4 separate regions of the Homo sapiens genome follow, and regions 2, 3 and 4 are each linked to region 1. The links come from fine-mapping of genetic effects on gene expression. A gene starts in region 1. Each other region holds a variant in brackets. All regions are shown on one strand. Distances are from middle to middle. Region 1 holds the start of UCKL1 (uridine-cytidine kinase 1 like 1). Region 2 overlaps DNAJC5 (DnaJ heat shock protein family (Hsp40) member C5). Region 3 overlaps DNAJC5 (DnaJ heat shock protein family (Hsp40) member C5). Region 4 overlaps DNAJC5 (DnaJ heat shock protein family (Hsp40) member C5).

Region 1 (7,470 bases):
TGTGTGGGCTGGCACATTCGGCCAGCCTAGGACCGCAGGCCTGCGGAGGACCACTGTGCGCCGTGTGCCTGCACCCCTCCTGGATCCCCTGGAAAAAGCTACAGTACCCCGGCCTGCCTGGGGCTACAGAGTGAACCCCCCGCAGCAGGACAAGGATATCTGAGGCGCCTCTTGGCCAGGTGTCCTGAACGTCAGTGCTGAGCTGGGCACCCCATCCCTAGCCCCAGAGTGCTTCCGACAGGCATAAACAAATCTGAAACTCCACCCTCTGGCACCATCTGAAAATAACTGCCTTGCCCTACCCCCACTCACGGGGGATCCTGCAGGGACCTGCAGCCACCCAGGGCTCACCACCCAGGGCTCAGCAGAGCACAGGGGACACAGCCACCTCCCCGCCCAGGGCTCAGCAGGGCACAGGGGACACAGCCACCTCCCCGCCCAGGGCTCAGCAGGGCACAGGGGACACAGCCACCTCCCCGCCCAGGGCTCAGCAGGGCACAGGGGACACAGCCACCTCCCCGCCCACAGAAACAGGGTTTCGGCCCCACCCTCCGCAGAGTCAGTCAAGGATGTGCACAGAGAAGTCCTGGCAGCCCTAAGCTCTCTCCCAGGGGCAGACAGGTCAGCCATGGGTGTCAGCTTCCTCCTACCATGGGTTTCTCTTGGAGCTTCTAGTACTGAGGCAGGGGCTGCCAGAAGCTCAGGGAAAAGGGAAGACTCCACATGGAGGTCATACTCCTCAATAGTAGGCCACTCCTGGGAGCTGCCTCAGAGGCAGGACCGGCCCATCTGTCTGTGTCCACAGGTGCTTCCTCTCCTCATTCTGCTCCCAGGAGGCGGCTACATCCCTCACTTGGGAAGTGGGCAGGAGACAGCCCAGGGTCGGGGAGGCGGAGGCTGTCCTGAGCAGGGGCGCAGAGTCCGGGCTCCTGGGGGCCATGCCACTGGCTGGGCTGTCTGAACAGCAGAGTGGACGCAGACTGGTCTTGCCTGGCATGGGCATGCACCCTGGCTGCCCTAGCCGGCCAAGAGGCAAGGCTACAGGCCTGGGGAAGCCAGCACTGTGCTGGCCAGGCGAGGGACGGAGGAGCCCAGGCACGCAGCTGTGAATGGAACCACCAGGCCCCACCCTGGAATCACGTCGCCTCGCTGCAGGCCACGTGGTCCCCAACATGCCCCTCCACGGGGCTGCTCTCGGCCACAGCAGCCCACGGCAGGGAGGGGCCGCTCACGGTGGGGAGGGGTAGCCTGCCCTGGTCCTATTCACTGGTGTTCCTCCCAGGTTCTAACTTCCTGAGCTGGGCCGGTCCAGAGAACTCCCATTCCCACGCCACCCACAGGTGCTGATGCCGCGCTGGGGTAAGCGCTGCCCAGAGCACCTTCTGCCTAAGGCTTCCTCCTTGCAGGTGGGGCTGTCTGAGGCCCGTGGTGCTGGAGGCTGCCTCAGTCACTTCAGGGCACCCCTTGCCCTTCCCTCACCTTCAGCCATCCTACTCTGGGCCACAGCACAGTCGAATGTGGCTCAGTCCCCTCCACGGAGCCACAGCTTGCCTCAGTTTCCTCCTCAAGGACTAACAGCAGGTTCATTACAGGTGGGTCAGCTCATAAAGTCCAAGGCAGATGCCTCATCGGTGATCAGGCCCCATAACTGATGTCATCGTCAAGAAATAGGCACAGGTGGCCGGGCGCGGTGGCTCACGCCTGTCATCCCAGCACTGTGGGAGGCCGAGGCGGGCGGATCACCCAAGGTCGGAGTTTGAGACCAGCCTCAACGTGGAGAAACCTTATCTCTACTAGAAATACAAAATTAGCTGGGCACGGTGGCACATGCCTGTAATCCCAGCACTTTGGGAGGCCAAGGCAGGTGGATCACCTGAGGTTGGGCGTTTGAGACCAGCCTGACCAACATGGAGAAACCCTGTCTCTACTAAAAACACAAAATTAGCCGGGCGTAGTGGCACATGCCTGTAATCCCAGCTACTTGGGAGGCTGAGGCAGGAGAATTGCTTGAACCCGGGAGGCAGAGGTTGCTGTGAGCTGAGATTGCGCCACTGCAATCCAGCCTGGGCAACAAGAGCAAAACTCCATCTCAAAAACAAAACAAAACAAAACAAAAGAAATACACACAGGCAGCCGGGTGCAGTGGCTCACGCCTGTAATCCCAGCACTTTCAGAGGCTGAGCGGGCAGATCATCTGAGGTCAGGAGTTCAAGACCAGCCTGGCCAACATGGTGAAACCCCGTCTCTACTAAAAATACAAAAAATTAGCTGGGCGTGGTGGCGGGCGCCTGTAGTCCCAGCTACTCGGGAGGCTGAGGCAGGAGAACTGCTTGAACCCGGGAGGCGGAGGTTGCAGTGAGCCGAGATGGTGCCATTGCACTCCAGCCCAGGACTCTATCTCCAAAAAAAAAAGAAAGGAAGAAAAATAAGCACAGGCATGTGTGGAGACCTGGAGGCAGGGCTGCCCCTCACGAACCATCCACAATGCCAAGGAAACCAGAAGCAAACGTCCAGCAGCAGGGAGCGCAGGGCATGTGAAACCGACACTGAGGAAACAGCCACGGGAGAGAGCACACAGGGAGAAAGGAAGGCTCGGGCACTCCCTTGCTGTGGTTCAGGCCTGTTCTACCACCCCTGGGGTCACCATCGCCCACGGACCTTCCTGCTGGGTGCCTGTAGCACGGCACCTCCTGACAGGTCAGGTTTAAGGGAAGTTTGCTGGATAACTAAAATGAGGCTGGGGGGAGGAGGGAGCAGGGAGGAGCTAGCCCACAGGAGCCAATGCAGGCCTGACCCCACTGGTGCCGGACTGACTCAGGGAGAGTCATTAGGGCTGCTTTCTCAGGCTGGATGAGCACTGGGGGTTGGGGGCTTGCCCTGGCCCACCCCACCACTCAGGAAACCTTCCCTCAGCAGGACCTGCCCTGCACAGATCATGGGCAGCCTCCCTCTGCTCCCCACTTCCACAGCCCCAGACTCCATCTCAACCGCAGCCAGGAGTCACTGCTAACACCACAAAGGACCTGTTCCTGCACCAGCACGGGCCAGCTCTGGGGGCAGGTGCCCAGGACAGAGTCACGAGTGGCAAGCAGACAATAAACAACAGGCAAGATGGACAGACTGATTGCCGGGAGGATGTGGCAGGAGGCACTGGAACGGTGGTGGAGGAACCCCAGCCCTGGGGACAGACCTCCACCCGTGCACAGACCTCCAAGCTGGAGCCTGCTCTGGAACACTAAGGGCAGCAGCAGAGGTTGAAGAGGGGCAGACGCAGGAACGTTGGGGACACGCTCGGGGAACAGTGAGAAAAGCCCTAGGCTGGGGCAGAGGAAGTCCTCGATGGCACAAGCATCAGGACACAAAGTGCAAGAAATGTGCCTAAGACAAGAGGCAGTTCCAGGGCAGACCGGGGCCCCTGGAGAAGGGTGCTGCAATCTATCCTCACTGCCTGGAGCTTCCCTCCTGTCCCTTGGTAACCACACCAAAGAAAGATAACAACAGTCTCTGCCTCGTGGGACACAGCGAGGGCCACCGTGCCCAGCCCACCGTCTGTGCACAGGGCAGGCCCAGATGGCTGCTGCCACCAACCTGTGTCATCCAGGAGTGCCTTTCTCAAGAGCTCTCAGTGCTTATCTAGCGTTGGCCTGCCCCACCTCGGGTTAAATCAAAACCTCTTTGGTGGCTGGGCGCGGTGGCTCACGCCTGTAATCCCACGGAGGCCGAGGCGGGCAGATCACCTGAGGTCAGGAGTTGGAGACCAGCCTGGACAACCTGACAAAATACCTCTCTACTAAAAATACAAAAAAAAATTAGCCGGGCGTGGTGGCGCACACCTGTAATTCCAGCTACTCGGGAGGCTGAGGCAGGAGAATTGCTTGAACTGAGCTCGGGAAAGGGAGGTTGCAGTGAGCCGAGATCGAGCCACTGCACTCCAGCCTGGGCGACAGAGTGAGACTCCATCTCAAAACAAAAAAACAACGCCTCTTTGGAACCAGCAGAGGAACAGACTCAGGCCCTATTAGACTCCAGCCATGCAAAGTTCCTAGTCACTGCCCACTGGGAGGGTGTGGACCTGAAGGGACGCAGGGCCAGGGGAAAGCTCTTTCTGCTCAGCAGCTCCTGGAGAGGAGCGACCCTGTGCCGGGACACCCTTCCCCCTGCGGCATCCAGCGCAGCCCATCTCTGAGGGAGTCCTGGCTCACAGCGTTTCTGACAGGAGTCACAGCCTGAACCCAGGCAAGAGGCGCCTGAGTGGGAACAACCCCTTCCTGGGGACCCCGCGGGCTCCCCAAGGGACACTTCAGACCCGGAAGGGAGGGGCAGCGCCCAGAGCGCCCTCTTGCAGCCCCGGGCACTGCGTGGCCACCGCCCCCTGACGGCCACGGCCCCAAAGGCGCCGCGCAGGGCCCGGCTCCCAGAGGGGCCACTCGGGGTGACGAACCGGGGTGGGGGCGGGTTCCTCCCGCTGCACCCCCACAACTTCCCCACTTCATGCTCTTGCAAAGCCCCCGCAGAGGCTCGAAGGTGCCACGCGCGTGCGAGGCAATCCGAAGGCACCGTGCGCCGCAGCACCTCCAAATCCTAAGCCCTGGCCTCGCGGGTCGGGCAGGGCCACACCCCGAGCCGACAACATAGACCAACTCGCACAGTCGAGCAGGCACACAGCCCGCCGGGCGCTCGAGGCCGAGGGCCCCACCCACCGGGGGCAGAGACCAAGGTCAACGCTGGGGGTGCGCACCCGGACTCCTTCCCCGAGCCCCGAGGAGCCTGCCGGCTTGGGCCAGGTCCGTCCTCCCGGCCGCTTCAAGCCCGCGGGGTTCCACCCGGCACGTGGGAGAACGGGGCGCCGCCGCCTGGCCTCCGGGAGTGGGGGACTTGGGCTCGCGGCGGGGACGGACCACCCGCCCAGCTCGGCCGGATCTGCAGCCCCTTCCCGCTCGCCAGTGGAGTGGAGGCGAGGCCCACGCCTACCGGTCCTCGCACGCGGTCTCGCTTTTCTCAGCCTGCCGGCCTGGTGTGTCTCGGGCCGTAGGTGGCGACGTGGGCGAAGGATCAGCGTCCGCGCGGGCCGGGGGCGCAGCCATGGCGCTCGGAGGCCTCTTTGCGGGCCTGGCCGGGCGGCGCGCATGGGCCGCCGGGAGCTGGCGGGTCCCTCTCTTGCCCACCGCGGACTACAAGCCCCACAAGGCCGCGCGTCGCGGACTACAAGCCCCACAAGGCCGCGCGTCGCGGACTACAAGCCCCACAAGGCCGCGCGTCGCGGACTACAAGCCCCACAAGGCCGCGCGTCGCGGACTACAAGCCCCACAAGGCCGCGCGGCGGGCATGGGGGACCCGTAGTTCGGCAGCCTCCGCCACGTGCCTGGAGGGCCCCGCCCCCTGTTTTTCACCACAAACTGAGCCGCACAAAAACCCTGGAAAAAAATCAATAAACATTTATTTGATACAGTCATTTTAATACATACAGTGATGGCCCGTCCCCACGCCACTCGGGACCAGGGCGCGGGGCGGGGACGAGGACCGGGGACAGATGGTCACAAGGCGGGCGGGGCCCGAACTCACCGTTGAAACATCTCGCAAATAAACACTTTGTAGATAGAATATATATGTATATATATATGGTTACAAGTGATAGCTGGAACCTCTTTCAAAATGCACTTATGTACTGAGAACTGGCATTAAAAAACCCAAACCAAGAAACCCAAAGCACGGGACGCCCGGCCGCGAGGCAGGGGAAAGCCTGGGGCCCCAGACCCGGGCCTGGGGGAGCCGCCTGGGGCCCCGCCAAACGCGGCACACGGGGACGGCCCCTCCCGGGGTCAGGCTCACTGGCTCCTTCCCTTCAGCGCCACCAGGCAGGAGGGCCAACGGTCACACAGGAGGCACCCTCACCTGCCTTTGCACCAGCAAATAAAGTGCATCCCATTTTCGTGTGAGCGTCGGCCCGGTGAGTCAGCCCTTCCGGGCCCTTTCCTGTTCTCAGGGCAGGGGGCGTGCGCTGAGCCAGAGGTAGATCTGCAGAAAGGGCCCCGACTGGGCCTCGGGCAGGGCCGGCGCCCACCACACTCTGGGGGTCAGCTATGCTGGTCCCTCTCACTGAGGGCTCCTGGAGGCCTATGTGGGCCAGCGTAGGGAGTGGGCAGACCCTGCTGAGCTCCACCCAGGGCCCCACCCCTTGGGAGGAGGGCTCTGCGGACCAGCATGTGGCAGAGGGAGGGCAGAAAGGAGGGGGTCAGACCCAACAGCCACTTCTGGCAGTAGCCCCCACGCCTACCTTAAAGACAAAGGGGGTTAAAGTGCTAAACATCAAGGTATCCAGGACTCCTCTTCCCACACCAGGGATTATCTGTGGGCTTTGGGAGTGTCCCGGAAACTCACCCCCAGCAAAAACCAGACCCTCTTCTCTTCTCCCCAAGGGCCAAGTACCTGAGAGGCTGGGGCAGGCACCACACCCTGCAGGTGTTCAGGTCCACCCTCCTCCCGCCATTGGTGGCAAGGACAAAGTGCACCTAGGCCCCCGCCCAGTGCCTGCTCCCCTCCCCTCCCCTCCCCTCCCCTCATGAGGCTGCCCCAGCAGCAGCTGCCAGACCCCACCCTCCACCTCCGGCTCCTCCAGCTCCACCAGTGAAGCTCTGGGACACAGGAAGGAATGCCTCCCCCGACCCTCTGACGCTGGGTCACGCCCATCTCTGCCCCAGCCTCCATCCTCTCATCAGGCCGAGGTGTGCGTGGGTGGGGGGAGTCCGGGTCTCCACACCCACTCCCTGGCACATCTGGCAAGGGCTGCTGAGGGTTGGAGCCTTCTGGCCCAAGGATGAAGCCAGAGACAGGAAGTGTTCTGCAACCCCAGTCCCCAAAGTGCTCCTGGAACTTGTCTCCCTACTACTGCAGGCCAAGCCCAGTGGGGCCCCTTCTCCCTGGGGAATGGGGGAGGGTGGGTGCTGGGGGCAGAGGCAGTGCCCAGTCAGTACTGCCTCCCTGAGCAGCAAGGGACCCCAACCCCAGAGACCCACGCCCTGGTCCAGCCCAGCCCCCAGGCCCACCGTCTGCACCAGGAAACCCTTAGCACCAAATGTCGGATTGCGAGTGTTTGTATAAAAAACAATTTAAAAAAAAGGTTGTTACTTGTCACAGCAACAAGACTGGCATCCACTACACCCAGGAGACACACGCACACGGGCAAACATCAAAATTCTCATCGTCCAGGGTCAGTGGGGCCGAGCCCTCAGCCCACTCCCACCCACCCTGGAAAATGGCCTCCCTCCAAACCTACCCCCTCTGAGCCTCATCCTCCCTGCAATGCCGTGGTTGGAAGGCAGGACCCCAGGGAGGGAGCCACAGGCTGTGGCCACCTCTTCCAGGCACCCTGGACTCCCTGCCTGACCCCTGCCCTACCTATAGACCCAGCCGTCCTCAGGGCCACAAAGGGGCAAAGACAGCTCTGGAGCTGCCATCAACCTGCTGTGACTT
Region 2 (7,470 bases), 45 kb before region 1:
AGACTCTGTCTTAATAAATAAATTAATAGCCGAGCACGCTGGCTCACGCCTGTAATCCCAGCATTTTGGGAGGCCGAGACGGGCAGATCATGAGGTCAGGAGATCGAGACCATCCTGGCTAACACGATGAAACCCCGTCTCTACTAAAAATACAAAAAAAGCCGGGTGTGATGGTGGGCGCCTGTATATAGTCCCAGCTACTCGGGAGGCTGAGGCAGGAGAATGGCGTGAACCTGGGAGGTGGAGCTTGCAGTGAGCCGAGATCGCGCCACTGCACTCCAGCCTGGGTGAGTGATCGAGACTCTGTCTCAAAAAAAATTAATTAATTAATTAAAATATGACAGTGGCCTGGGTGCCATCGCTCGCACCTGTAATCCCAGCACATTGGGAGTCTAAGGTGGGAGGATCACTTGAGCTCAGGAGTTTGCCTAGCCTGGGCAACTTAGGGAGATCCTGCCTCTACAAAAAATAAAAAATTATCCAAGTGTGGTGGTTGCACACCTGTAGTCCCAACTACTTCGGAGGGTTGCAGGAGTCCAGGAGGTCAAGGCTGCCGTGAGGTGTGATTGAGCCACTGCACTCCTACCTGGGTGATATAGTGAGACTCTGTCTCTAAAATAAAATAAAATAAAATAAATGACAGTGGTCCATATAGTACCTTATTCAGAAAAGGCTTGATGTACAAGAAAATAAGTTATTTGTGATCAGGACAGAGAAGAATTACTGCCTTTTGTGAAATGGATGCTGAGAATCAGTTACGATGTACGGTGCTTGGGAGGCTGACTTTGATTTCAGTTACAGCCCTGCTGATCCTTAGCACGGTGACTGCAAATAGGTTACTCCACCTTCCTGAGTCTCAGTCTTCTTAGCCGAAAAGCACAGATCATCATCATAATAGCTAACATTAACTGTGTGCCTGGCATAGGGTCTGACCGCTTTATTCAAGCCAGCTCCCAGACATACCTTGCTGGACTGTTTAATGCCCATTCGACAAAGAGGAGATCGACATGGGGAGGTGTTGAGTAACTTGCCTGGCCACTGAGTCCCTGTCAATGGCAGCTCAGACAGGTGACCCCAGAGCTACCCTCCCACCCCCTGACCAGGCCCGTCTCACAGGCCTCTTAGGAAGGGCTCTGTTCAGTAGATGGCAGGCACGTGGTAAGTGTTTCCTAAGCTGCAGCTGCTGTGTAGATAAAACTCAAAGCAGATATCACAAGTTTTGTCAGATCATACTGTCTCAATTTTGAGGTGAATGCATGTGTTTTACTACTTAACTACCTCTGAAATTTAGGGGTTTTTTGTTTGTTTTGAGACGGAGTCTCGCTCTGTCGACAGGCTGGAGTGCAGTGGCGCGATCTCGGCTCATTGCATCCTCTGCCTCCCGGCTTCAAGTGATTCTCCTGTCTCAGCTTCCCCAGTAGCTGGGCCTACGGGCATGTGCACCATCACGCCTGGCTAATTTTTGTATTTTTAGTAGAGTCGGGGTTTCACCAGGTTGGCGAGGCTAGTCTCGAACTCCTGAGCTCGTGATCCCCCCACCTTGGCCTCCCGAAGTGCTGGGATTACAGGCGTGAGCCACTGCGCCTGGCCCTGAAATTTCGCATGTTTTACGGTTGGCTTGTTAGGGTTAAATTGGTGCACCTTATACTTGGTTGCATACTAGACTCACTGGAATGATTTGACTTTCGTCATAGTTGCAGAGGCACTCTGAAACCCTATGTATGTGCTTCACCAGGGACAGCCCCACGCATGGGAGGTGGTGGCCAGCCATCACCCCAGGGTGAATTTCTCTAAGAGCAGTCCTAGGCCAGGGGGTGAGTGTGGGAAAGTCAGGGCCGTTTCCATCAGTTAACGTTTCAGAGCGGGTTCCCGCTGGAAGTGCTGGAAATACCCAGATGCCATCTGTAGCATTTTATGAACTGTGGCGGATCCACTCTCTGTGTCTTGAGCTTCTGCTCTGTGGTCTGCTCAGTGGAAGCATCCTGTCAGTCCACTGTACAGTGGGGTGGAGCCGCAGCCAGGGTGGGTGTGCCGTTTGATTGGTCACGGAATGAACAGGGCAAAGGTCACTAAGTAGATATGATACTGCAAGTAGGATTGTGGTCATAGGTATTTTTATGAATTTGTGTTATGTGAAGTTGAGGATTTGAATGTTGTGATTATTATATCCAGATAAAGTTCTAGCCTGGCACAGTGCAGGCACGTGCCTGTGGTCCCAGCTGCTTGAAGTGGGAGGAGAGCTTCAGCTCAGGATTTCCAGGCTATAGGGAGCTGTGGTCCCACCATTGCACCCCAGCCTGGGTGACAGAGTGAGACCCCATCTCAAAAAGAAAAGAAAAGAGGCTAGGCGCAGTGGCTCAGGCCTGTAATTCAAGCACTTTGGGAGGCTGAGGCAGGCGGATCACTTGAAGTCTGGAGTTCGAGACCAGCCTGGCCAACATGGTGAAACCCCCCCATCTCTATTAAAAATACAAAAATCATACTTACCCGGCAGGGGAGATACCATGATCGCGAAGGTGGTTTTCCCAGGGCAAGGCTTAGCCATTGCACTCCGGATGTGCTGAGCCCTGCGTTTTCCCCAAATGTGGGAAACTTGACTGCGTAATTTGTGGTAGTGGAGGGACTGTGTTCACACTGTCCCCCCCGCCCAAAAAAATAAAAATACAAAAATCAGTCGGGCGTGGTGGCTCACGCCTGTCATCCCAGCACTTTGGGAAGCCGAGGTGGGTGGATCACCTGAGGTCAGGAGTTTGAGACCAGCCTGGCCAACATGGTGAAAATTGGGAGGCCGAGGCGGGCGGATCCCAAGGTCAGGAGATCGATACATCCTGGCTAACACAGTGAAACCCCGTCTCTACTAAAAATAAAAAAAAAAAAATTAGCCGGGCGTGGTGGCGGGCGCCTGTAGTCCCAGCTACTCGGGAGGCTGAGGCAGGAGAATGGCGTGAACCAGGGAGGCGGAGCTTGCAGTGAGCCGAGATGGCGCCACTGCACTGCAGCCTGGGCGACAGAGCGAGATTCCGTCTCAAAAACAACAACAAGAACAACAACAAAAAATTAGCCGGGAGCAGTGATGCGTGCCGTAGTCCCAGCTACTCTGGAGGCTGAGGCAGGAGAATCACTTGAGCCTGGGAGGCAGAGGCTGCAGTGAGCCGAGATTGTGCCACTGCACTCCAGCCTGGGCGACAGAGCAAGACTCCGTCTCAAAGAAAGAAAAAGAAAGAAAAAAGTCTTCCCCGTGAGAGTAGATTTCTACTGAATCGATTGCTGGTTTTATGCCTTTTCTTCCGTGATAGGAAGTATGTCCAGACTCATCTGGCTGGGGATCCTCAGGAGAGCCTGCGGGGGGCAGCAGAGGCCC[G/A]CCTGGGCCAGGGCGTGCACCAGACCAGAATCCTGCGGATTTAGTATTGTGAGGGTAGAAGACCAGCAAGCAGCATGACCTCGTGGTTACTGATCTTATGAAGAACACTTGTCTTTCATATTTGGGACTGTGTTAAGGTTTTCTGGAATATTTTTGGTTGTAGTAACGATTCTGCTTTAGGAGCTTTCTTCTCTAGTGTTGCACAGACCTGAGTGATTTGACCAGCAGTGCTGCGGTAACGGAAGACCACTCGTGTCTTCAGACTCGTTCTGTTCCTGGGGGTGCTTGCTTGTTCTAGGCCCCCTTTGTATGGAGAGGTTCAAACCTTGATTGAATAGTCGCTACCCAGGTGTCATAACCTGTGGCCTCATTGGTGTCACCTGGACTTTTTGTCTGCTGTTTGCACCATCGAAAGTGATGTGCGCTGGCCGGGCGCGGTGGCTCACGCCTGTGGTCCCAGCACTTTGGGAGGCGGGGGTGGGCAGATCACAAGGTCAGGAGATGGAGACCATCCTGGCTAACACGGTGAAACCCCATCTCTACTAAAAATACAAAAATTAGCTGGGCATGGTTGCGAGTGCCTGTAGTCCCAGCTACTCGGGAGGCTGAGGCAGGAGAATGGCGTGAACCTGGGAGGCAGAGCTTGCAGTGAGTGGAGATCGCGCCACTGCACTCCAGCCTGGGCAACAGAGCGAGACTCCCTCTCGAAAAAAAAAAGTGATGTGCGCTTGGGACTGGGAGGGCGAGGCCCGAGGTACCTGGGTGCCCGATGCCCAGGAGGGCATGAGTGTCGTGTTGGATAACCTGCTCTCCAAGTAATAGGGTTTTGAGAATGTTTTTTTTTTTTTTTAATTGAGACAGAGTCTGACTCTGTCGCCCAGGCTGGAGTGCCATGGTATGATCTCGGCTCAGTGCAACCTCTGCCTCCCAGGTTCAAGCGATTCTCCTGCCTCAGCCTCCCAAGTAGCTGGGACTACAGGTGCCCGCCACCACACCCGGCTAATTTTTGTATTTTTAGTAGAGACGGGGGTTCACCATGTTGGCCAGGCTGGTCTATCTCCTGACCTCATGATCCGCCTGCCTTGGCCTCCCAAAGTACTGGGATTATAGGCCTGAGCCACCATGCCCGGCCTGTTCAATTCTTTGTATTCAAATGTATATCTGGAGTTATTTTGTTCAACTTCTGATCTGCTTTTCTTTTTGAATTACTGTATTCTAAGCATCAGTTTACAAGAAAAAAAATCTTTATTAGGTTTCCAGACCCAAGTCAATACCAATAAAATTAATGCAGCAAACATTCACTGAATGCTCTATTAGGACCTGGGGCAGTAGATGAGTCTGTGAATTAAAAGGGCTTCAGCATGTGGGGTTTGGTTTTGTTTCTCTGTAGCTAATCATACCTTTGGAATGGTTTTATAGTTTCAGGAAACCGTGGTTCTGGGCAGGGTGGCAGCTATGGGTTGAGGCAGTTGATCCTTCCTCAGGTGTGGCCGCTGGTCTTGTTGCTTCTTGACATTAACTTTGTGACTCACGAGGGCAGGCGTTCGTTTTCTGTGGCACTCTGTGTGTGAGCGAGCATGGGGCTTGTTACTGTGTGAAAAGGGCCAGCTGCCCTGCCTGTCTGCTCCTCCCTGGCTCGGCCGGGCGCTGCCATGGCTCCAGCTCAGATTCACTTCCTCTCGTACTTGGATGCTTGGTGATGGTCGTGGAAGCAGTTTTATTTTCTCTTGCTGTTCTCGTGTTGCGTTAAGCTCAGCATCACTGTTGCTTTTTATTCTTAGAATTAAGGAGGAAAGCTGAAATCTTTTGGGGATTTCTGTGTTTCCAGGGACTTTAGGAATTCTTTTTTTTTTTTGAGACAGGGTCTTGCTCTGTCAATCAGGCTGGAGTGCGGTGGCGCGATCTCGGCTCCCTGCAGCCTTGACCTCCTGGGCTCGAGTGATCCTCCCATCCCAACCACCTGAGTAACTGGGACCACAGGTGTGCACCATCACGCCTGGCGAGTTTTTGTATTTTTTTTTTTAATAGAGATGGGGTTTCACCATGTTGCCCAGAATGATCAAACTTCTAGGTTCAAGCAGTCTCCCCACCTCAGCCTTCCAAAGTGTTGGGATTACAGGCATGAACTGCCATGGCCGGCTGGAAAGTCTTTACATTTGAAATTCATTTTAAGTTAGGAGGAAAGGCCTAGCACACTGGCTCATATCTGTAATCCCATCACTTTGGGAGGCTGAGGTGGGCGGATCACTTGAGGCCGGGAGTTTGAGTCCAACCTGGCCAATATAGCAAAACCTCATCTCTGCTAACAATACAAAAATTATCTGGGCATGGCGGCAGATGCCTGTGATCCCAGCTACTCGGGAAGCTGAGGCAGGAGAATCGCTTGAACCCGGGAGGCGGAGGTTGCAGTGAGCTGAAAGTGCACTACTGCACTCCAGCGTGGGCGACAGAGTGAGAATCGGTCTCCAAAAAAAAAAAAAAAAGAGTAAAGGTGAGGGACACCTGTGATGTGGCACACAGCGTCTTTTCTCTAGCTTGCTTTGTTGACTCTTGTTTATAATTTCTTCAAATGTATTTACAGAGTTAATTGGGTTTTTTTTGGAATAGATAATATCTATTCCAAATAAAAATCCAGAAATACACATTCAAACTGTGGGGCTTTTACCCTTTTAACTGTGTTCCAAGTCCCTGTCCCTAGCATGCTCTGATTGTCAGTCCTTCCCTTGCCTGACCTACCTGTCTGAGTATCCTTTGGCAGTCAGGTTTTTGTTTGTTTGTTTTTGAGACGGAGTCTCGCTCTGTCGCCCAGGCTGCAGGCTGGAGTGCAGTGGCGTGATCTCAGCTCACTGCAACCTCCAACTCCCGGGTTCAAGCGATTCTTGTGACTCAGCCTCACGAGTAGCTGGGACTACAGGCGCCTGCCACCACGTCCAGCTAATTTTTGTATTTTTTAGTTGAGACGGGGTTTCACCATGTTGGCCAGGATGGTCTTGATCTCCTGACCTCGTGATCTGGCCACCTTGGCCTCCCAAAGTGCTGGGATGACAGGTTTGGCCACCGTGCCCGGCCGGCAGTCAGTTTTTACATGGTTCATCACAGATTTTAAATTAAGATTCCCCAGCAGGATAAAAGAAATGCCAGTTGTATTTTATTTTTCGTATTTGTATTTTTAGCAATTTTTTTTTTTTGTATAGAATGAGCCAAGGGCATCTAGAGCAAAGAGGTAGTTCCCTGCCCCGTCTCCATCTCCCTGTCTGCACTGTCTCTCCCAGAGGTGTTTGCTGGTGCCTTCTTTGCAGTTCCCTGTGCTGTGTCATGCCCGTTTGCTGACCCAGCCCCTGCTGTGTCTTCCCCATCCCAGTGTGACTGTCGCTCTTGGTAGTTCCTCCGTGTTTCCTTTGTTTCCTTAGGTGACTTGTCTTTGCCCCACTCCCTGCAGTCCGCAGCACCTGTTGTCTCCTTCCCTCTCCTCCCGCTTCTCCTCAGACGTCATCTGTTCTTTCTAGAGTTGTTCCCCTTGCCCCAGGGTCCAGGGTTCCTAACAGCCTGTTTTTTTTCTTTCTTTTTTTTTTTTTAGTGAGACAGAGTCTCGCTCTGTTGCCCAGGCTGGAGTGCAGTGGTGCGGTCTCAGCTCACTGCAGCCTCTGCCTCCTGGGTTCAAGTGATTCTCCCGCCTCAGTCTTCTGAGTAGCTGGGACTATAGGCGTGCACTACCATACCTGGCTGATTTTTGTATTTTTATTTTTTATTTATTGTTGAGACAGGGTCTCTTTGTTGCCCAAGCTGGAGTGCAGTGGTGCCATCTTGGCTCACTGCAACCTCCACCTCCTGGGTTCAAGTGATTCTCCTGCCTCAGCCTCCCAAGTAGCTTACAGTAGGGATTGCGGGCACCTACGACCACGCCCAGCTAATTTTGTATTTTTAGTACAGATAGGGTTTCACCATGTTGACCACCTGGTCTCAAACTCCTGACCTCAGGGGATCCGCCCACCTTGGCCTCCCAAAGTGCTGGGATTGCAGGCGTGAGCCACCGCGCCAGGCCCTAACAGCCACCTTCTTAGCATCTGTATATTCAGACCGTCCATTGCAGGATGTGTGATCTTTGTGGC
Region 3 (7,470 bases), 29 kb before region 1:
AAAAATTTCTAAAAACTTAGCTGGCATGGTGGCTCACGCCTGTAGTCCCACCTATTCAGGAGGCTGTGTTGGGAGGATCACTTGAGTCTGAGAGGTTGAGGCTGCCATGATCCCTTATCACACCACTGCATTCCAGCCTGGGTGACAGAGCAAGACCCTGTCTCCAAACAAACAAAAAAGCAAAAAATGGTGTTTTACCTAGGTATTTACCATTTCCAGTGGTCTTCATTCCTTTCTAAAAATCTAGGTTTTAGCCGGACATGGTGGCTCATGCCTGTAATCCCCAGCACTTTGGGAGGCTGAGGCGGGTGGCTCACCTGAGGTCAGGAGTTCCAGACCAGCCTAGCCAACATGGCAAAACCCAATCTCTACTAAAAATACAAAAATTAGCCAGGCGTGGTGGTACGTGCCTGTAGTCCCAGCTATTCAGGAGGCTACGGCAGGAGAATCGCTTGAGCCTGGAAGGTGGAGGTTGCAGTGAGCTGAGATTGCACCACTGCACTCCAGCCTGGGCAACAGAGTGAGACTCTGTCTCAAAAAAGAAAAAAAAAAGAATAAGTCACATTTTGGTGAGGAGCAGTGGCTTGCACCTATAATCCTGGCACTTTGGGAGGCTGAGGCAGGAGGATCACTTGAGACCAGCCTGGGCAACAAAGCCAGACCGTGTCTCTATAGAAAATTTTAAAGTTAGCTGGGCATGGTGGCACATTCCTGTAGTCTTAGCTGCTTGGGATGCTGAGAAGGGAGGCTTTCTTGAGTCCAGGATTTCAAGGCTGCAGTGAGCCAAGATCGCACCACTGCACTCCAGCCTGGGCAACAGAGAAAAACCTTGTTTCTAAAAAAAAAAATTAGGCTGGGTAGGGTGGCTCACACCTGTGATCCCAGCACTTTGGGAGGCTGTAGCAGGCGGATTGCTTGAGTCTGGGAGTTTGAGACCAACAAGATCCTGACTCTATAAAAATTTTAAAAAATAGCTGGGCGTGGTATTGCACACCTGTAGTCCCAGCTACTCAGGAGGCTGAGGTGGGGGGATCAGCTGAGCCCAGGAGGTCAAGGTTGCAGTGAGCTGAAATGTGACCACTGCACTCCAGCCCGGGCAATAAAGTCAGGCGGGGAAAAGAAAGAATGAGTTAACATTTTCTCAGCTTTATGTGTTGAGTGATTTTGGATTCTATCCTGAAATGGTAAGAATGAAAAGAAAATCTGCCAAGTCCATCCGTTCCTACACTCTCACTGCCTCCAAGTCATTCTGCGCTCTTGAGCCAGAACGACCTGGCCGTTTTTAAAAATGGAGTTTTTTGCCTTAGTAATTGACTTGTGTAAGAGTTCTTTATTCCACTTGTGAATTGTTTTTTATACGTACATAATGTAAATATTTTCTCCCCTTCTGTGCCTTTCAGTATGAATCTATCTGAACTCGATTCTGCTGTTGTGTGTGTGTCTTTTCCTCAGTACCAGATGGTCTTGATTACTGTAGATATATAGTATATGTCTTGAAATCAATAGGGTAAATTCTCTAACTTTTGTTCTTTTTATTAATGTTGCTGTGGCTAATCTGTCTGCTACATTTCCTTATACATTTAAAAAAATCAGTATCAGTTTCTGCAAAAAAAAATCCTCTTGGATTAGGGTTAGGCTTCTGTCAAGTCTACAGATCAGTTTGGGGAGAACTGACTTCTTTATATCGAGGCTTCTAATCCGTGAACATGAGGAATCTTTTTCTTATCTTTAGTATCTTAGCAATTTGTGGTTTTCAACGTACAGATTTCATAGGTCTTGTTATTTCTTTTTCTTTTTTTGAAACAAGGTCTCACTGTGTCACCCAGGCTACAGTGTGGTGGCACGATCATGGCTCACTGCAGCCTCGAGCTTCTGGGCTCAGCCATCCTCTTATCTCAACCTCCTGTGTCACTAGGACCACAGACATGAGCCACCATGCCTATTTAACTTAAAAACAAAAACAAAAAACCGGGCACGGTGGCTCATGCCTGTAATCGCAGCACTTTGGGAGGCCGAGGGGGGGATTGACTGAGGCCAGGAGTCCGTGACCAGCCTGGACAACATGGCAAAACCCTGTCTCTAAAAATACAAAAATTAGCTGGGTGCAGTGGTGCGTGCCTGTAGTCCCGTGCCTGCGGCATGGGAATGGGTTGAGCCTGGGAGGCGGAGGTTGCAGTGAGTTGATGACTTAGGATTTTTCTTCTCGGTCACTTTGCAAGCCGGGGACCCCTGGCCAGTGATGCCCCACCTGGGCCCTGCTTGGCCACACTGGCGTGCCCCAACTCACCTGTGTTATAGCTTGTACTGTGTTCGGCCATTCCCGAGCTCATGTACCGCACTCAAGATCAAGGATACACTGGACATTGAAGGGTGAGGAGGGCGGAGAAGAACTTTATTGAGCAGTGAAACAGCTTTCAGCGGACCAGGGGATGCAGGGGTGGTTCCCCTACCTGAAGGCAGGAAAGTCCGCCTGTGTGGCTGGGTCTGGGGCTTTTTATGGACTCAGGATGCGGAGTGCTTGCAGAGCTTGCTGATGGGTTTGTGAGTATGCAGAAAAGGTTAAAGTGGGCATGACAGTGTAGAAAACCAATTATAAGAGGCCGGGCACGGTGGCTCACGCCTGTAATCCCAGCACTTTAGGAGGCTGAGGCAGACGGATCACAAGGTCAGGAGTTCAAGACCATCCTGGTCAATGTGGTGAAACCCCATCTCTACTAAAAATACAAAAATTACCTGGGCGTGGTTCGCGTGCCTGTAGTCCCAGTGACTTGGGAGGCTGAAGCAGAAGAATCGCTTGAACCCGGGAGGCAGAGATTGCAGTGAACTGAGGTCACACCACTGCACTCCAGCCTGGGCAAACAGAGCGAGACTCCACCTCAAAAATAAAAATTAGGAAAGGGTAGGTATGTGTAAAATAGGTGAAGGATGGGGATCAATCAGAGGAAAGTGTGGCAAACAGGAAGGCAAGTTCTTCATCTAGTCTGAGGATTTAACTTGTAGCTCAGCTGTCAGGCTTTAAACTGTCTTTGGCTTGGAGGTGGGTTTCACCGGGAACCCGCCCCATCTGCCTGGCATTCAGCTGCCTCCTGCCAGTATCACCGAGATCGCGTCACCGCACTCCAGCCTGGGCAACAAAGCGAGACTATCTCAAAACCCCATATTGATGTCATTTCCTAAATATTTGGTTAAAAAAAAAATCTGGGCCTGGAATTTTATCTGGTTTTTTTTTTTTTTTTTTTTGAGACGGAGTCTCGCTGTGTCGCCCAGGCTGGAGTGCAGTGGTGCGATCTCTGCTCACTGCAAGCTCCGCCTTCCGGGTTAACGTCATTCTCCTGCCTCAGCCTCCCGAGTAGCTGGGACTACAGGTGCCTGCCACCACTTCCGGCTAATTTTTTTGTATTTTTATTAGAGATGGGGTTTCACTGTGTTAGCCAGGATGGTCTCAATCTCCTGATCTCGTGATCTGCCCGCCTTGGCCTCCCAAAGTGCTGGGATTACAGGCGTGAGCCACGGCGCCTGGCCTTCTGGGGATTTTTTATTACAAATATAACTTTATTAACAGATGCAGGCCTATTCAGATTTTCTATTTCATGTCAGTCTTGGTAAATTGTAATTTTCAAGATATTTGTCCATTTCATCTAATTTTTCTAATTTCTTGGCATGAAGTTGTTCGTATTTTATCCTTTTCACGCCTCTAGGATCTGTAGTGATGTCTTTCCTCATGTTGCTCAAAGAACCAACTCTTTTGGCTTTGTTGAAGTTATCTGTTTGTTTTCATGGATTTCTGTTCCTTATGATTTCCTTGCTTGCATTTATGTTGGGTTTATCCTGTTACTTTGTAGCTTCCTGAGGCGGAGCCTTAGGCCTTGATTAACGTGTTGTACTAGTCAGCATTCTGCAGAGGAACGTTGCCATTATCTGTGTCTCTTTCTAAAGGAGATTTGTTATGAGGAATTGGCCCACGTCATTATGGAGACGGAATCTCATGCTCTGCCATTTGCTGAAGATTGAGGAAAGCAGTGGGATAATAACAGTCCAAGGACAGGAGGAGACACGTGGCCCCGCTCAGGCTGGCAGGCGAGAAGGAAAACCCAGGCCAACTCCTCCTCCCACCCCTTTCTATTCGGGACCCCCGTGGACTGGGACGACACTCACCTGCACAGGGCAGCGCAGTTGGCTTCATGGAGCCCCCAGCTCAGGTGCTGCTCTTACCAAGAAACACCCTCCCAGGCACACCCTGAAGTCATGTTTCATCTGGGTGCCCCACGATGCAGCAAAGGAGACATGAAATTAACCGTCA[T/C]GTACACTGTATTTATTATTCAATTCAAAACATTTTCTAAGTTCCCCTGGGATTTCTTCTTTGAGCTACATGTTAGCCGGAGGTGTGTTGTTGAATATCAAGAGTATCTTCCTCCTGGGTTTCCAGTTTGTAGCTAAGTCAGGGATAGTGCTGTGTGTGACCTCATTCCATTACGTTTATTGAAACCAGCTTGAAGCCCTAACATGTGGCTTGTCTTAGTGTACAGCATTCAGTTAAAAACAATGTGTGTTCTCTAGATGTTGGGTGTTCTGTGACTGTCACGTCATGGTGGTTGATTAGTTAGAAACAATGTAGAAACAATGTGTATTTGCCAGGCGCTGTGGCTCACACCTATAACCCCAGCACTGTGGGAGGCTGAGGCAGGCGGATCACCTGAGGTCGGGAGTTCAGCCTGAGGTCGGGAATTCAAGACCAGCCTGGCCAACATGGAGAAACCCCATCTCTACTAAAAATACCAAAATTAGCTGGGTGTGGTGGCACATGCCTGTAATCCCAGCTACTCCTGTGTGAGGCTGAGGCAGGAGCATTGCTTGAACCGGGGAGGCGGAGGTTGTGGTGAGCCGAGATCGTGCCATTGCACTCCAGCCTGGGCAACAAGAGCAAAACTGTCCCCCCCCCCAAAAAAGAAAGAAAGAAACTGTGTGTTCTCTAGATGTTGGGTGTTCTGTGAAGATCAGGTCATGGTGGTTGATAGTGTTGTTCAGAACATCGATGTTTTTCCTGATTTTTGGTCTGTTCTGTCGATTTCTGAGAAAGTATTAAAATTAAAGTTGGGTCTTGCATTTTTATCCATTCTGTCAGTCCCTTACTTTAATTGGAGTTTTTTGTCCACTAACATTGAATTTAATTGTTGATATGTTTGGATTTAGATCTTCCAACTAATTTTCTATTTGTTTCCTGTGTTGAGTTACTTTTTCATTTTTCTTGTAACTTTTTAGCTTATACCTCTTTGCATTTTTTATGCAGAGGTTGCTGTAAGGATTACAATATGCATGTTTATTTTAATTAATTAATTTATTTTGTTTATTTATATATTTGTTTTTAAGGAACAGGGTCCCTGTCTCCTGGGCTCCAGTGCAGTGGAGTGATCATAGCTCACTGCAGCCTCAAACTCCTGGGCTCAAGCGGTCCTCCCGCCTCAGCCTCCCAAAATGCTGGGACTACAGGTGTGAGCCCCTGTGCCGGCCCACAGTACACAGCTGCAGTTCTTCAGGATCTCTTGGGGTGGCCGTATTCTGCCGTCTCACACTTCTCCATGCCATGGCGTCTGTCTGTGCACGTGGCAAACTCCACAAGGCAGTGTTGGATTCTTTTGCTTTGAACGGTCTTATGGAATAAAGTCCATCAGCTCTGCCCTTGGTACTTTCATCTATACTTTGTGATACTTTCTTTTTATTTTTTCTTCTAGAATAGCCTAACATGGCAGACCAGAGACAGCGCTCACTGTCTACCTCTGGGGAGTCATTGTACCACGTCCTTGGGTTGGACAAGAACGCAACCTCAGATGACATTAAAAAGTCCTATCGGTAAGTGGACAAGTGTGGCCCCCACATCCCCCCAGGAAGACACACATGCCCCGTGTGGTTTAGTCTGCATTTTACCAAGAACCATTGCACATACTTTATCCTGGCCGACTCAGCGTTGAACTGGTCACAGCTCGGTAACACCTTTGTATGTGTAATGTGCTCCTTATAGCTTAAAGTTATGGTATTCATGTTCTCTTGCCAACAAAAAATAGCACTTAGTAGAAACTGACACACTGTCCACAGTTCCATAGGGAGTCAGGGTCTGAACCTGTTTGAGGCCTCACAGGAGCCGCAGAGCGCTGGCATGGTCCTGTGGTCTCCTTGTTTTAGCACAGTGATGACAGAGACCCCTCACTCTGTTGTGGCCTTCTGATTGAGCTTGAAGAACTGCACTCTTGGGTACAGTTTCATTGAGTAACCTGTAAGAGACACCATCACTAATCCAGACAATTCAGATAGTCCTCCTCTCGTGTGCTAGCATCGTGTAGTTCATAAAACACTTCTTAAAGTGCCATCATTACGCCCCGCCGTGCTTACCGTTCACTTGGCACTTGTGCAGTTAGCGGCTGGGACACCAGGGCTGGCCTTGGTGCCGCTGAACTTAGATGTGCCGTGGCACTCACAGCCCTTGGGGCTCCCTCCTCTGAGGCTGGGTCAGGGTGAGGAGGTTTACCTGAAACAACCGCGGAGCTTGCTTTTGTCCCTGGCCCCTGCAGCCCTGGAGAGTCGGACAGTGAGGTGGCCTGGGTGGACCTGCCTTCCACTGCACCCGGCAGTGCGTGCGGGTGGGATGGACGCGGCGGCGGGTGCGGGTGGAACAAAGTCCAGGGTAGAGCCAGGACATGGTTTTGGTTTGCAGGAAGCTTGCCTTGAAATATCACCCCGACAAGAACCCCGACAACCCGGAGGCCGCGGACAAGTTTAAGGAGATCAACAACGCGCACGCCATCCTCACGGACGCCACAAAAAGGAACATCTACGACAAGTACGGCTCGCTGGGTCTCTACGTGGCCGAGCAGTTTGGGGAAGAGAACGTGAACACCTACTTCGTGCTGTCCAGCTGGTGGGCCAAGGTGAGGGCGAGCTGCCTGCCGTGCGGGCACCCGAGTCACTCCTGCCGTGCGGGCACCCGAGTCTCTCCTGCCGTGCGGGCACCCGAGTCACTCCTGCCGTGCGGGCACCCGAGTCTCTCCTGCCGTGCGGGCACCCGAGTCTCTCCTGCCGTGCGGGCACCCGAGTCACTCCTGCCGTGCGGGCGCCCGAGTCACTCCTGCCGTGCGGGCACCCGAGTCTCTCCTGCCATGTGGGCACCCGGGTCACTCCACGCCTGCAGGGTTCCCAGCATTGCAGAGCCCATGCGTTGATGCCAGCAACTCTACACTCCTGAGAAAAGGCTTCTGGGCATATGGAGCCTTTCTCCTCACCTGTGTGATGGGCGAAGCTCTGTCACTGGCTTGGTGTCCTGCCTGGAACAAGCCATAGCGTACAGATTGTCCCAGGGAAGAGCCGTGCGGAGCCGCCAGGGTTTCTTCTGTAAATGGCTCCCAGTCCTTCGTGAGACAGGAGGAAATAAGCCTCGATGTTACATCCGCATTTCTTCGTTTCCTCGTTTTGTTCCAAATG
Region 4 (7,470 bases), 20 kb before region 1:
AGCCCAAGGCGCCTGAAGGCGAGGAGACGGAGTTCTACGTGTCCCCCGAGGATCTGGAGGCACAGCTGCAGTCTGACGAGAGGGGTGAGTGCCCGCCCCAGGGCCCGTGTGTGTGTGTGGGGCAGAGCCAGAATGGGCCCTGAATGGTGTCAACCTGTCTTGTCAAACAGGAGGGCACTGACACTGTGCCGCGAGTGTTTGTGGTGGCAGCTGGGACTGTTGAGGTGTGAACGTGGACCCTGAGGTAAAGCAGGCGCATAGAGCTGTCCCCGCCGTGACCTGCGGTAGCCGTAGATCCCAGGGACTGCGAGGCGGGGCAGGGCGGCAGGCAGTTGGGGCGGGGCTGAGGGCCGAGGGCTGGCGGTGACCCAAGGCGACGGAGGAAAGCCGTGTGGGGTGGAGGTCAGCGAGTAGCCTCTCCCGGTGGAGAGTTTGTCCAGGTGCCCGAAAGTCGCTCCACAGGACCAGCGTTGGGTGCGCGCCAGGCTGTGGCCCTCGTGCAGTGCCCTGTGTGCTTGCTTTTCAGAGGCCACAGACACGCCGATCGTCATACAGCCGGCATCCGCCACCGAGACCACCCAGCTCACAGCCGACTCCCACCCCAGCTACCACACTGACGGGTTCAACTAAATCCAGGAGGAGCTGTGGTCAGAGGAGGAGCCGGCGCCTGGCCACGCCAACCTTAGAATCATGAACTGTAGTCACAGAGATGGGAAGGCAGCCTCCTGCCTGCCCTGGCCTTGCTGGGGCCCCTCCTGCCTCCACGCCCACCCAGCGTCGACCCTTGACCCACGAAGTGCGTAGCATGCAGTATTTAAAGCAGTGTAGCTACGGTCTTCTGTTTTTTTCCCTTTTTTAATAGCATGTATGGGGTTCTGTTCCATGTCTGTGTTGTGGACATTCCGCGGCATGACCGCGTGAACTGCACGGTGGAGCTGCCTCAGGGCTGTCGGTCAGGTTGGTCCAGTGAGGGGTGACTGCAGCCGGTCAGGTGGGCGAGGAGAAGGGGGGCTGCCCCTTTCCTACCTGTGCTTGAGGGGCCGGAGGCAGGTGCTGCCTGGCAGAGCTGTGTTACCGTCTTGGCCTCGGGGTCTGGTCCACACTCTGTGCTCCCAGCCTTGAGGCTGCAGTAGGACTCTGATCTCACCTGCCAGAAGAGAGGCGGGGCCGCGTCCTCCTGGCGTCACCGGCGTCACTGTCATTCCTTGGTGTCTGTGCTGGGCATGGTTGGCTTGGGGGTCTGTGGTTTCCTGGGCCTTGTGGCAGGGTTTCTCCCGTGGGAGAATTTGGTGTGGAAAGCATAGGAGGCCCCTTCCGAGGTTGACACCGTGTCCTCCGCGGTGTTTCTCGCCTGGTCGTCTCGTCGTGTGGACGCTGCCGTTCTGGTTCTCGGAGGTGTGTCCTTCGCCGTGTTGGGGTTATTTGTCTGTGTTCCTGCACTTTTCCCGGGCTCTGAGCTGGATTGATGGGGCCAGTCTCCCCCCTCCCATCTTGAGGTCGTTCTCCACATTCCTTCCAGCACACCTGTCCTTTCCATAGCCCTTTTTGGACCTTTAGAACCACAGATGATAGGACCAGCCCAATGAGCCACAGTCAGAGAGTAGATTGTGCATGTGTGAGCACCCAGCTACTGGGGACGGGGGCTCTCCCACGACCCCTCCTCCTGTGTTTGCCAGAGCTCCCATCTGCCCCACTCGCCTTTGCCCCGTCATCGATGATTCAGGCAGAGCCAGATTCGTTAGGTCCCTGGAGGAAGGACTGACTGGACCAGAGGGACCCTCTGGCTCAGGAGGGTTGGGTCCCTGGGAGGCCGGCAGCCAGGCCACAGAATCCACACGTGGACCATTGTGGGTCCCTGGGAGGCCGGCAGCCAGGCCACGGAATCCACACGTGGACCATTGTGGGTCCCTTGGGAGGCCAGCAGCCAGACTA[C/T]GGAATCCACATGTGGACCATGGGAAGTCAGTCTCTTGCGTGTCCTAGACCTTGTGGGTGGCGCCCTGCATAGGGGAGCAGGGGGAACGGGTCTGATGTCCCTGTGCTGGCTGAGGGCTCAGAGCTGCCCGCACTCCGTAGCTCATGGGATGTGCTGGGCCTGCCTTTGGCGCCATGCTGCAGACTCCAGTGGGCCTGGTTTCTGCAGAATGTCCATGGTGGCCGCTGCAGAGTTGCAGAGGTCCCTGTAGAGATAAAGCTGAGGAGGAGGCTGTGTGTGATGGCTCTGGCTCGGACCAACCAGATGAGCCTCCTGAAGCCCCCTTCCCTGCCTGCCTGCTGACCCGTGGCCCCAGCTCACTCATTGCCCTCAGCAGCCACCCGAGGCTGTGCAGAAGGGTAGGTTCAGGTTGACCAGGAAGCTGCCAAAAGGGACATGGATATGAGGATACATCTGGACGTGCTTAGGAACAGGGTGCTGGTTGAGGGCCCCCAGCTGACCCCTACTGCAGATCCGCATGTGGACCATGAGCCGGCTGCCAGCACTAGGTCCTGGGCAGCTTTGTTTGTCCCACTTTTCTTTGTTTCTTCTCACTAAAATGATCACGAAGACCTTTGACAAGAGGAGAGATATGCACTGTGATATTAAATTAGAAATAATTTATCAAAATCAGACCTCTCCTAAAAGAATAAGAAATTCATTGTTTGGCCCATCCTGAAAGGTGAGGTGGCGAGACAGTGGGGTGCCTCCGTGCCGCTTCGTGCAGCAGCAAGTTCAGCCTGAGATGCTGGCTGTACTCAGCCTTTGCAATTTTTGTAGATGTAGCTTAGGACGTGAGTTATTTTTCCGCAGACTGGCCAAGAGCCAGGTTCTAAGCTTGGACCTAAGGTAGAAAGCTGCCCATCGGGGGCCCTAGCTCAGCCCCACCAGGCCCTCTGTTGGGCCTGCACACAGCTCTGTGGCTAGAACACTCCAAGGCCCTTCGGTACCCATCAGAGTGGGCCCCTTGCCAGGTGGCTTTTCAGTTACAGAGTCCAGTGGACCATTTTGTAGAACCATGCAGCTCCCTGCGGAAGGTGGGGTAGGGTGGGAAAGAGGAGCAGGTCTGGAGGTTTGTGGAACCCAGTCCCCTGCAGAATCTGTAAAACCTAATAAATCATGGTTGTGGCCATTCTCACGGTGGTGATTGTGATTAGACGACCCCCGGGAAGCCCAGACACTCGGGGCCTGGAGTTCCTCCCCCTGCCTGACCTAGAAGCAGAACCGTTTTCAGCGCTCTGCCCTGTTGGCTTTAAGGCTTTGTCTTAATTTAAGGAAAAAGATCCTCCCGGGTTTTATTTCTCTCTTTCTTGAGTGGACTGTTTCCCTATAATTAAAAGAGGTGGTGAGTCCTGGGGCAGCTTCCGCGCCTCCCTGTCCACGTGCTAACAGATCAGGACGCCCCCAGCACCCCTGCCTGCTTTTGCTGGTGGCAGTGACGGGACCCCGACTCCTCACTCTCGGGCCGCAGACAATGCTGTGAGCAAGTGTGGCCATGGGCACAGAATGTCCCTTTGGACGCCGCTGCTGGGGGCTGCCAGGGGCCCTCTGGGGTCGTGCTTTGAGGCCCGTCCGGTTCACGAGGGGGTCCGGGCAGCACTGACTGCTTCCGACCTGCAGGAGGCGTAGGAGCGGCCCTGCGGGCCCTTTCACGGCAGCTGCTGCTGTATAGATTTGTCTCCACTCAGTGACGTGGGATTTTTTTGTCTTCCTTTTGGCTTTATTTTTAAACTGCTTTAGATATTACTGCTCAGTGTTTGTGAACTTTCCTAGTTCTCTATGTTGTTAGTGCAGCCAGCACCCAGTGGGGACCTACTAGAAAAAGGAACTGGCATGCACACGTGCCCAGCAGGAAAAGCTTCGTCTTCACGTCGGCTGCTGCCATCCAGAAGAGGCCCTGGAGCCTCACGCCGTCGAGGCTGCTCTCAGGCGTTCTGTTCCGGGCGAGGCTTGTGCTGCAAGGAAGGGCACCAGCATGCAGGCTGCCACTGGAGGGTCCGGGTGCTGCGGGCAGAGTTCAGCGCTTGTCCACCCTCCCTTAGCTCTGACTCAGTGCATCCTACTGTGGGGACATCTCGTGAGGGGACACGAAATGACTGATCTCACCCTTTCCCAGTATTCAGAGCTGTGAACCCCTGTGGCGCAGGACTGGCCTGTGTCTGTTATTTTGGTTGTAAATCATTCTCCTGTGGAATTGGCAAAAGCTACATTTTTACTGTCCTTACCAGCAACAGTTTGCGTCGTCACATGCTGTGAGTGTGGGCTGTGGTGTGTCCGTGTGTGTACATATGTGTATATGTATATATCACGCAGCAGGAGTGTCATTCATGCTGCTGTCCCCTGGTGAAGTGACAAGTACAATTAAAGGTGGCTCTGAAATGGCCTCTGGTTTCTTGGGAGTCGGGCAGGGACCTGCAGGAGGCTTTCCCAGCAGGTGCACAGAAGGAAGCGCTGAGCCCACTGTGTGCAGAGGGTGTGTGCCCAGGGCACTGCCACGGCCCCCACCAGCATTGGCCTCTGCTCTGCAGGGTGGGGTGCCCATCCTGGGGGCTGTGTGTCATGCTCACCTGACCCAGGTGTGTGTCCCGGTGTGAAATCGAGGAGGGGACTGGAAGCCCTTCCCTGCCTTGAAACATGAAAGCTGATTTTCTGAGCAGCAGATACGGTCAGTGGCAAAGCTGCATCTGAAGGGCGGCCTGGGAAGGGGCCCTGTGCTGGCCCCGGGTCCGCCCCAGAGGAGTCCACACAGCACCACCTCCAGAAGGGGCTGGGCCCGGGGTCCTGCAGGCGGCACCTTTTGGTAGAGTTTGTTTCCCTGGAAAATGGGGAAAATGTTTCAAGCCAGGTGAGGGGGGAAGTTAACACTGAAATATGTATTGTTTTTAAAAATCAAATGCACACGCATGGAAGCTGCTTGTCCATGCACTGGTTTTGTCACTGGCGTCCTGGAATCCGACCGTGTTGGGGTGCAGGCGCTGTCAGACTCCGGCTGATCCTGGCTCGAGCACACACATCTAAGGGCCAGGCTGGTTCCGCATGGTGATCTCCGTCTTGTATGTCTGAATGTTGGCCTAAAATAAAGATTACTGTTGTAAAATAAATGTTTTCACTGCGGACCCCACGTATGTCTTACTCGCTAGTCCCGCAGATCCCTGGTTTTGGAGAGCAGCAGCTGATCTCAGCCCTCCACACCCCTTGCGGCTGGAACCTTGCTTCCCTCCTGCCTGGTCCAGATGTGGATAAATGCCCCCTCCTCTTGATTGTGTTTTCACCTCCGTTTTCTAAATACCAAGACTGGAGCAAAGAGGCCAAGCGTGGTGGCTCATGCCTATAATCCCAGCACTTTGGGAGGCCAGTGTGGGAGGATTGCTTTGAGCCCAGGAGTTCAAGACCAACCTGGGCAACAGTGAGATCGTGTCTCTACAAAAAAGAGTTTAAAATTATCTGGGTGTAGCCGTGCCTGAGGTCCCAGCTCGTCAGGAGGGAAATCACTTGAGCATGGGAAGTCCACGCTACAGTGAGCTGTGGTCACACCACCGAACTCCAGCCTGGGTGACAGAGGGAGATCCTGTCAACAAACTAACAAAAACTCAGAATAACGTAACAAACATCTTGAAATCCTCTATTCTGACTTAAGAAAAACGAAGGAAGGGCCAGGCATGGTGGCTCACGCTTGTAATCCCCAGCACTTTGGGAGGCCGAGGTGGGTGGATCATGAGGTCAGGAGATCTGAGACCATCCTGGCCAACATGGTGAAACCCCGTCTTTACTGAAAATACAAAAAAAATTAGCTGAGCGTGGTGGTGCGTGCCTGTAGTCCCAGCTACTCAAGAGGCTTAGGCAGGAGAATCGCTAGAACCCGGGAGGTGGAGGTTGCAACGCACCGAGATCGTGCCACCGCTCTCCAGCCTGGGTGGGAGAGCGAGACTCCGTCTCAAAAAAAAAAAAAAATTTGAGTCAGATTTTCCATTTTAAAAAAATGGCAGCATCCAAGACCGTTTTGCGTCTCTCCCCATTTCCATCCTCTGCTTCCATAGCTTTAAACTCTGTCTACCACTGTCAGGTCCAGTAAGACGTACTATTGGTTTATACCTTTTTACATAAATTGTACTACACCATAGTACTGAGTACACCACCTGCCTTATGAGTTTGTTTGTTTTTTTTTTTTTTGAGATGGAGTCTCGCTCTGTCACCCAGGCTGGAGTGCAGTGGCGCGATCTTGGCTCACTGCAACCTCCGCCTCCTGGGTTCACGCCATTTAGGAAAACGCATGCCTCACCCTCCCGAGTAGCTGGGACTACAGGCGCCCGCCACCACGCCTGGCTAATTTTTTGTATTTTTAGTGGAGATGGGGTTTCACCGTGTTAGCCAGGATGGTCTCGGATCTCCTGACCTTGTGATCTGCCCACCTCGGCCTCCCAAAGTGCTGGGATTACAGGCATGAGCCACCGCGCCCGGCCTGTTTTTGTTTTTGAGACGGAGTCTTTGTGGCCCAGGCTGGAGTGCAGTGGCACAATCTCGGCTCACTACAACCTTCATCTCCTGGGTTGAAGTGATTCTTGTGCCTCAGCCTCCTGAGTAGCTGGGATTACAGGCATGTGCCACCACGCCTGGCTAACTTTTTGTATTTAGTAGACGGGGTTTCACCATGTTGGCCAGCCTGATCTTGAACTCCGGACCTCAGGTAATCCGCCCGCCTCGGCCTCCCAGGGTGCTGGGATTACAGGCGTGAGCCACTGCACCAGGCCTAAGTTTTTCATTTGATACAGTAGTAGTTAAGAAATCAAGCCGTGTGGTTATATTAGGTCTGGTTCATTTTAGCTTCTGTACAGAACAGTCACGAATTAATCACAGTCGGTCCTGGGCAAACTGACCACAGGTTTTTAGTTTCTCACTGTGGAAACAAAGCTGCCTGAATGTCGCTGCTGAGTTGTCTCGGGTGGGATCGCTGGGAGCGGGATCTGGAAGCCTTCCCTTGACTGGTGGCCCCACACTGCCCTGCAAAGAGGCTCCCCATCTTCTCGCTGCCCCTTCTAGCCTTAGCGTTGTCAGACGTTTTTTTCTGGCTTGGTCTTTGAATTTTCTTAATTAAGTAGAATCCACGTTTATTAAGTTCAGTTTTTTTTTTCTTTTTCCTTTGAGACAGAGTCTTGCTCTGTCATCCAGGCTGGTGTGCAATGGCGCGATCTCGGTTCACTGCAGCTTCCGCCTCCTGCGTTCAAGCGATTCTTGTACCTCAGCCTCCCGAGTAGCTGGGACTAAAGGCGCGCCACCACGCCCAGCTAATTTTTTGTATTTTTAGTAGAGACGGGGGTTTCACCATGTTGGCCAGGCTGGTCTCGAACCTATGTAGGCCTCCCAAAGTGCTGGGATTACAGGTGTGAGGCAGCGCGCCCGGCCTATGTTAAGTATTTTATATATGGGATTCTTACAGAGAAATGTTAACAGCAAGCCGAGCACTGGACACTGGGTGGCGGGCAGCAAGACCCTTGCCAGGG

Evidence for each region. PIP is the estimated chance that this variant, and not a neighbour inherited with it, causes the effect.
Region 2: its variant is fine-mapped to the expression of UCKL1 in monocytes (TOPMed, PIP above 0.99).
Region 3: its variant is fine-mapped to the expression of UCKL1 in whole blood (TOPMed, PIP above 0.99).
Region 4: its variant is fine-mapped to the expression of UCKL1 in whole blood (TOPMed, PIP above 0.99).

The regions. Positions count from the first base shown.
Region 1 is chr20:63,951,289-63,958,758 of GRCh38, forward strand. It overlaps UCKL1 (uridine-cytidine kinase 1 like 1), which reads right to left and starts at 5,128. Exons shown (of 15, transcript NM_017859.4): 1 at 4,972-5,128. The coding sequence starts at 5,084. ZNF512B (zinc finger protein 512B) reads right to left here. Exons shown (of 17, transcript NM_020713.3): 17 at 5,416-7,470. UCKL1-AS1 (UCKL1 antisense RNA 1) reads left to right here and starts at 2,096. Exons shown (of 1, transcript NR_027287.2): 1 at 2,096-5,697. RefSeq lists silencers at 4,215-4,524, 4,575-4,624, 4,725-5,094, 5,685-5,894 and enhancers at 5,225-5,284, 5,314-6,201, 6,202-7,087.
Region 2 is chr20:63,906,476-63,913,945 of GRCh38, forward strand. All of the region lies in intron 1 of DNAJC5 (DnaJ heat shock protein family (Hsp40) member C5), which reads left to right. It also overlaps the pseudogene RNU1-134P. Among named protein-coding and RNA genes, the nearest start is that of MIR941-1, 9.2 kb to the right of the region's middle. RefSeq lists enhancers at 3,881-4,380, 5,802-6,302. The variant G/A (reference allele first, on the strand shown) is at 3,362.
Region 3 is chr20:63,922,606-63,930,075 of GRCh38, forward strand. DNAJC5 (DnaJ heat shock protein family (Hsp40) member C5) reads left to right here. Exons shown (of 5, transcript NM_025219.3): 2 at 5,730-5,847; 3 at 6,707-6,920. The coding sequence starts at 5,741. Among named protein-coding and RNA genes, the nearest start is that of MIR941-5, 6.5 kb to the left of the region's middle. The variant T/C (reference allele first, on the strand shown) is at 4,301.
Region 4 is chr20:63,930,939-63,938,408 of GRCh38, forward strand. DNAJC5 (DnaJ heat shock protein family (Hsp40) member C5) reads left to right here. Exons shown (of 5, transcript NM_025219.3): 4 at 1-84; 5 at 527-5,073. The coding sequence ends at 630. Among named protein-coding and RNA genes, the nearest start is that of MIR1914, 6.9 kb to the right of the region's middle. RefSeq lists an enhancer at 1,298-1,799. The variant C/T (reference allele first, on the strand shown) is at 1,933.